2 linked regions of the Homo sapiens genome follow. The protein of the gene in region 2 purifies or fractionates together with the protein of the main gene of each other region. This does not show direct contact. Each region holds a gene or a part of one and is shown on either strand. Other genes may lie near its edges.

Region 1 (3,653 bases), on a different chromosome or scaffold from region 2:
CAATATGCCCCAGTAACAAACCTGCACATGTACCCCCGAATCTAAAATAAAAGTTGTAAAAAACAATGTTTAAAGAACTAAAGACAATCAGAGCTAAAGAAAATCACTGACAAAGTACTAAAGGAAATCAGAAGAAATATGTCTCGACAAATACAGAATACCAATAAAAAGATAACTATAAAAAGGAACCAAGAGAGGCCGGGTACAGTGGCTCACACCTGTAATCCCAGCACTCTGGAGGGCCAAGGTGGGCGGATCACCTGAGGTCAGGAGTTCGAGACCAGCCTGGCCAACATGGCAAAACCCCGTCTCTACTAAAAATACAAAAATTAGCTGGGCTGCTTGTAGCAGCGCATCCCTGTATTCTCAGCTACTTGGGAGGCTGAGGTAGGAGAATCACTTGAACCCAGGAGGTGGAGGGTGCAGTGAGCCGAGATAACACCATTGCACTCCAGCATAGGCGACAAGAGTGAAACCACACCCCCCCCACAAAAAAGGAACTAAGAGAAAAAAATTCTAGAGCTGAGAAGTATAATAACTGAAATTAAAAATTCACCGCAGACTTGAAAAACAAGAATCAGTGAACTTTAAGCTAGGCCAACAGAGATGATCCAGTATGAAGAATATAAAGAAAAAAAGAATAAAGGAAAATAAAGCCTAAGAGATCGTTTAGACAACCATTAAGCATGCCAACAGATGCATAATAAGATTTGCAGAAGGAGAGGAGAAAATGAACAGAAAGAATATTTGAAAAACTATTGGGGAATATAGTCTGTACAAACAAGAACTTTACCTAACTCCTAGTAGGATAAATGAAAGAGATCCCCACCTAGACACATTATTATCAATCGGTAGAAAGACAAATACAAAGAACCATAAAAACAGCAAGAAGTGACTCATAAGCAACAAGGAATACTCAACAAGATTAACAGCCGCTCATCAGAAACCATGGAAGTCAGAAGGCAGTGTGATAACAAAGTGATGAAAGGAAAAAAAAAAATCGTCAAGCAAGAATTCTATAGCTGCCGAAACTATTCTTTAAAAACGAAGATGAAATTAAGACATTACCAGAAAATCAAAAACAGATTATCACTAGTAGATCTGCCCTATAAAAAATGCTATCAGGAATCCTCTAAGATGAAATTAAAGGACACTAGAGAGCACTTAAAGCCATAAATTAAAACACTGGCATATTTTACAGAGGCAAAAATATGATATTGTACTTTTGATTTCTAACTCCTTTTTCTCCCTACATGATTTGAAAGACAAATGTACAAAATAGCAACTGTAAATTTATGTTAATGGGCATTTGACATCAAAACATACACTTTGCAACAATAACATAAATGGTGAGGCACAGAATAGTACAGAGCAGAGATATGTTTACTACTGAAGCTAAACTGGCATTAAACTAGATAAAGTTTAAAGTACTAAATGCAATCCCCAGGTAACCCCTAAGAAAATAAAAATATACAGAAAATGAAAAGAGAAGATGGTACACTGCTATATATCTGCAACACAAGGAAATACAAAGAAAATAAAGATCAAAATAAAAGATATTAAGACAGGTAGAAAACACAAAGCAAAATGGCAGGCCATTCTTATCGGTAGTTTACACATACATATAGTGTGGAATTAAAAGGTACATATTAGCAGAATGGATTAACAAAAAATACAACCAATCTACAATCTGTCTACAAGAAACTCACGTTAGACCTGGTTGTCCAATCTTTTGGCTTCCCTGGGCCACACTGGAAGGAGATGACATGTCTTGGGCCACACATAAAATACACTAATGATAGCTGATAAGATAAAAAAATTTAAAAAAGAACTCATAATGTGTTAAGAAAGTTTACGATTTTGTGTTGGGACACATTCAAAGCCGTTCTGAGCCGCATTCAGACTGCAGGCCATAGTGGACAAGTTTGCTTTAGATCCAAAGACACAAACAGGTTCAAAGTAAAAGAATGGATTAAGATATTACATGCGAATAGTAAGCAAGAGAGAGCTGAAATAATGTATTAGTCTACCAGGGCTGCTCTACCAATCACAACAAACTGGGATGTCTTAAAACAACAGAAATCTATTCTCCCATACTTCTGGAGGATAAAAGTCCAAAATCAACACAATAACAGACCACACTCCCTCTCAGACTCTGAGAAGAATCATTCCTTGCCTCTTCCTAGCTTTTGGTGGTGGTCAACAACTTGGCTTATAGCTGCTAACTTCAATTCTATCTCCATCATCACACGGTGTTTCCTCCTGTCCCATGTGTGATGTCCTTATTCTTATAAGGACATCAGTCATAGTGGATTAGGGCCCATTGTAATACAGAATAACTCCATTATAACTTGATTACATCTGCAAAGATCCTATTTCCAAATAAGTTCATATTTACAGGTATTAAGGGCTAGGACTCAACACATTTTTGGAGGGATAAAATTCAACCCGTAGTAGTCTGTACCTTCTGGTTCCCTAAAATTTATGTCCTTCCAATGTGCAAAATACATTCACCTAATCCCAACCTCCCAGAGTCTTAACCCATTCCAGTATCAAGTCTAAATCCAAACAATACCTAAAAATCATCAACTCAAAAGGGATCAAATCTCATCATCTAGATCAGTTATGAATGAGACTGGGGGTATGGTCCACTCTAGAGCAAAATTCTTCTCCATCTGTGGAGCTGATTCCAAAAAACAATGGTGGGACACTTATAGATTACACATCTCCATATCAAAAGGAAGAAAATAGAAGGGGGGAAAAAGGGTCAGGGGTCCCAAGTTAGTCCAAAACCTAGCGAAAAGCATTAGACTTTAAGCCCTAAGAATAAGCTTTTGTGGATAATGGTTTGTACTCTGAGTCCACTGGGGAAATAGCCCTGCCATCGTGGCCCCAGGAAGTCTAATACACCCAGGACCCAGCATTTGCAGCTCTACCCTCAGCATCATTCTTCTTTAATTCCATTCTGTCTCTGTCCCATTCAGGCCAGCCTGGCAGTGTTTCTGCTGTCACAACATTCTCAAAAACTTTGTCAGTCTTTCATGAAATTCAGGGGGTCGAAGCCACCAAATGAGAGTCCTCCACAGATCTTTCCTGAAAAATTGCATGTCTATTCTGGGAAGTGCTGAGATGGCTGATTCGATCCACAAGTTATATACCAAGTCTCTTTAGAGAATAGCTGTCCAGTCACAGCCTTGGTCCTGTACCACAATACACTATTTGGACAGACTAAAAAATTTTCAAATTATCAAGTGCTGGCTCCTTTTTGCTAAACAATTCATTCCTCAATTTATATCTTTCCTCTCACACATTAGTATATAAGCAAGAAGAAACAAGGCTATACCTTCTACACGTTGTTTGTAAATCTACTCAGATAAATATCCAAGTTCATTGCTTACCCAATGATAGAACACAATTCAGTCAAGTTCTCTGCAACTTTATAACAAGGATCACCTTTTCTCCACTGTCCAATAACATGTTCATCATTTCCTTCTAAGGCCTCATCAGACTGCCTTTAACACTCATATTTCTGTTGACCATCTCTTCAAGGCAATCTACGCTGTTTTTTCTTTTCTTTTTTTTTGAGACAGAGTTTCACTCTTGTTGCCCAGGCTGGAGTGCAACGGCGCAATCTTGGCTCACCGCAATCATCG
Region 2 (3,653 bases):
ATGAGACTTTCCCTAAAAAGATAAACACCCTCCCTCCTCTGAGATCTCATACAAAAAACTCCATCTATTGGGCTGAACTTGTCTGTTTACAAACAAGTCTTAGCCTAGAATAGACCCTAAGTTCCTCATGTACAGAGGTTTTAGCTCATCTTTGGAATTGTAACAATCCACTGATATTAGCTGAAATAAATGCAACTTATTAAATCAGTACTTTTTAAAAAAATACATTTCTATAGGTTTTTGGGGAGCAGGTGGTATTTGGTTACACAAGTAAGTTCTTTAGTGGTGACTTGTGAGATTTTGGTGCACCCATCACCCAAGCAGTATACACTGAACCCAGTGTGTAGTCTTTTATCACTCACCCCCTTCCCACCCTTTCCCCCGGAGTCCCCAAAGTCCATTGTATCACTCTTAGGACTTTGCATCCTCATAGCTTAGTTCCCACTTACAAGTGAGAACATACAATGTTTGGTTTTCCATTCCTGAGTTACTTCACTTACAATAATGGTCTCCAATCCCATCCAGGTTGCTGCGAATACCATCAGTTCATTCCTTTTTATGTCTGAGTGGTACTCCATTATGTGTGTACACACACACACACACACACACACACACACATACACACCACAGTTTCTTTATCCACTCATTGATTGATGGGAATTTGGGCTGGTTCCACATTTTTGCAATTGCGTGTGCAAGTATCTTTTTTCATATAATGACTTATTTTTCTCTGGGTAGATATCCAGTAGTGGGATTGCTGGATCAAATGGTAGTTCTACTTTTAGTTCTTTAAGGAACCTCCACACTGTTTTACTAGTTTACATTCCCACCAGTGGTGTAGAAGTGTTCCCTTTTCACTGCATCCATGTCAACATCTATTATTTTTTGATTTTTTGATAATGGCCATTCTTGCGGGAGTAAGGTGGTACCACATCGTGGTTCGACAAAGCAAGCAAAAACATAAAGTGTGGAAAGGACACCCTATTCAACAAACGGTGCTGGGATAATTGGCAAGCCACATGTAGGAGAATGAAACTGGATCCTCGTCTCTCATTTATATAAAAATCAACTCAAGATGGATCAAGGACTTAAATCTAAGACCTGAAACTATAAAAATTCTAGAAGATAACATTGGAATAACCCTTTGAGACACTGGCTTAGGCAAAGATTTCATGACCAAATACCCAAAACCAAACACAACAAAAACAAAGATAAATAGGTGGGACTTAATTAAACTGAAGAGCTTTTGCGCGGCAAAAAGAACAGTCAGCAGAGTAAACAGACAACCCACAAAGTGGGAGAAAATCTTCACAACCTATACATCTGACAAATAACTAATATCCAGAATCTACAAGGAACTCAAACAAATCAGCAAGAAGAAAAAACAAGCAATCCCATCAAAAAGTAGGCTAAGGACATAAATAAACAATTCTCAAAAGAAGATATACAACTGGCCAACAAACGTATGAAAAACATGCTCAACATCACTAGTGATCAGGGAAATGCAAATAAATCAGTACTTTTTAAAGAAAGAAACAGATTCAGCACCTATGCAGACAGTGATTTACATGAAAACAATCTACAAATGCTACATTTGTTCCTTTCTGGGCATTTTTTACATATTGGCTAATAAGTATAACTATTTTTATCCAACCCTCTTTACCATCAGGGAAAATGTCTCCCCTCACCTCTTTGAAACCATACACAAATTACATTTTTAAAATATACAAAGGATTGCAGGTCCTGGAGGATGTAGCTTTTTTGGGGTGTAGCTCCACTAGTTGCATGCTGAGTAAATCCAATGTTGGCTGATACCTGAACTATTGGGGCTCCCTTGCCTTCTTCCTAGACCTGCCATGTAGTACTGTCGTTAATGATGTCCTCTCACTCCAGCTACTGCCCACTTACCCTACAGCTATTTCAAGCTTGCCTGAACAGTGCATATTTTCACATTTCATTGAATTCTCAACAATGAGGGAGCATGATGTGCTTACCTACTAGGTCCAAGAATTGAAATCTTTTTACTGAAGTCATCAGGAGCTAGAAACTAAATTCAAGTAACAGAAAATCTTCTGAATCTGTTTCTTTATTTAAAATGATGTTTAAACTTTGTATACCCTCTCAATTTTTTGAAGGATAGTAAATGAAGTCTTAGCTGAGAGTGTAAAAGCTAACTTATATTTTTACTTATTCTACCTACTAGCTTGAACAGGTCATTTCTATAAGAACCGAGTTGTCTGATCAGAAAAAACAAAAGTGTTGAATGGAACCACGTGTTTCTGAAGGGAGGTGTCTTAGACTGGGTTTCCTAGAAGCAGAGGTTGAAATGGGGTTTCTCGGACATGAGGTAATATTGGGGCGGAGAGAAAAGCTCTCAGTAGAAGAGGGAAGAGAGGAAGCAGGAGAAGGCAGAGATAAGACCTGTGTGGGGATGGGCTCTCAGCCAGAGCCCTGCATAAGCCTGATCCCATGCGATGCTTTTGGGCATGAATTGCATTACAGAGCTGATTCCAGCAGGGGGCTGACCTCCTATATCCCCTGAGCAGAGAGCCAATCGCCATGGTCTGCGCACATCAAGGGAGGAGGATGCATGACCTTGCAAGCAAGATGGTGCCCATCGGCCAAAGGTTATTCCCTTAAAAGGAAGCAGCTGTAAGCTATTAGCAGCTGATACAGGAGCCGGGGGATGGTGGGGTAAGAGGCAAGAGGTCAACAACTGCATCGACTGGAGAAGGAATTGGTGTATATCACCTCTTTTAAAATATTTCAGAAAACTCCCCAAAATGACACATTTTCCTAAGATGATGGTGCAAAGAGAACTAAAATGTCATAACTATTCATTTTATCAATCAGCTCTGGTCATGGGGGCAACCTAATGCTAATCTAAAGCTTGAAAGAGTTATGGCTATCTTTGATTAATGTAAAGAGGAAAAACTAGGTCATACTTAATAAACGCCATATGTTGATAGACAACCTGCTTTCAAAATATGGAGGCCAGGGTAAGTTAAATGGAAAAGTTGAAAGGTAGCTGACTTCAGAACCCTAAGGCTCTGTGAGCTTAGATGATGCCCAGAAATTATGTTATTCTATACTTTACACAAGGCACTGCAAAGAGACATTTTCAGTTATTTCTATTCCTATTTCATAAATAAAAATGCCTTTTGATAATATGGATATGCTTCATTAATTGCTGTCCCAAACCTCTCTTCCCCCCAAAATGGTATGAGAGTCAGGTTTCTGGACAGCAATACCAAGTAATCCATTGGAACTTCTCCATTTCTGACTTAATACAAGCAGTACCCCCTAACACTTTCATAAGTCTCTCTACCTTAACCCCAACATTTTATACTCATTCACTGAAACATACCTGGTAGGTGAGAACATGAAAGGTGGTGAATTTATTTTGAATAAATATGATAACCTCCAAATTTATGATTACATTTTTAAAAGTGGGAACACTTGCACCAACAATATTACCTTTTTAATTTAGGTGTCCAAATACACACATGTGGATAAATAATATTATATACAGATATATATATATATACAGATATATATATACAGATATATATATACAGATATACATATATACAGATATATATATACAGATATATATATACAGATATATATATATACAGATATATATATACAGA

The links. Proteins that work in one complex are often made in the same cells at the same time.
Region 1: the proteins of ANOS1 (region 2) and ZFP91 purify together in Homo sapiens (affinity purification with mass spectrometry; one large-scale study listed by BioGRID and IntAct). This does not show direct contact.

The regions. Positions count from the first base shown.
Region 1 is NC_000011.10:58,602,910-58,606,562, reverse strand, and holds part of ZFP91 (E3 ubiquitin-protein ligase ZFP91), read right to left. Parts: intron 1-3,653. UniProt on the Homo sapiens protein: Atypical E3 ubiquitin-protein ligase that mediates 'Lys-63'-linked ubiquitination of MAP3K14/NIK, leading to stabilize and activate MAP3K14/NIK. It thereby acts as an activator of the non-canonical NF-kappa-B2/NFKB2 pathway.
Region 2 is NC_000023.11:8,721,988-8,725,640, forward strand, and holds part of ANOS1 (anosmin-1 isoform 1 precursor), read right to left. Parts: intron 1-3,653. UniProt on the Homo sapiens protein: Has a dual branch-promoting and guidance activity, which may play an important role in the patterning of mitral and tufted cell collaterals to the olfactory cortex. Chemoattractant for fetal olfactory epithelial cells.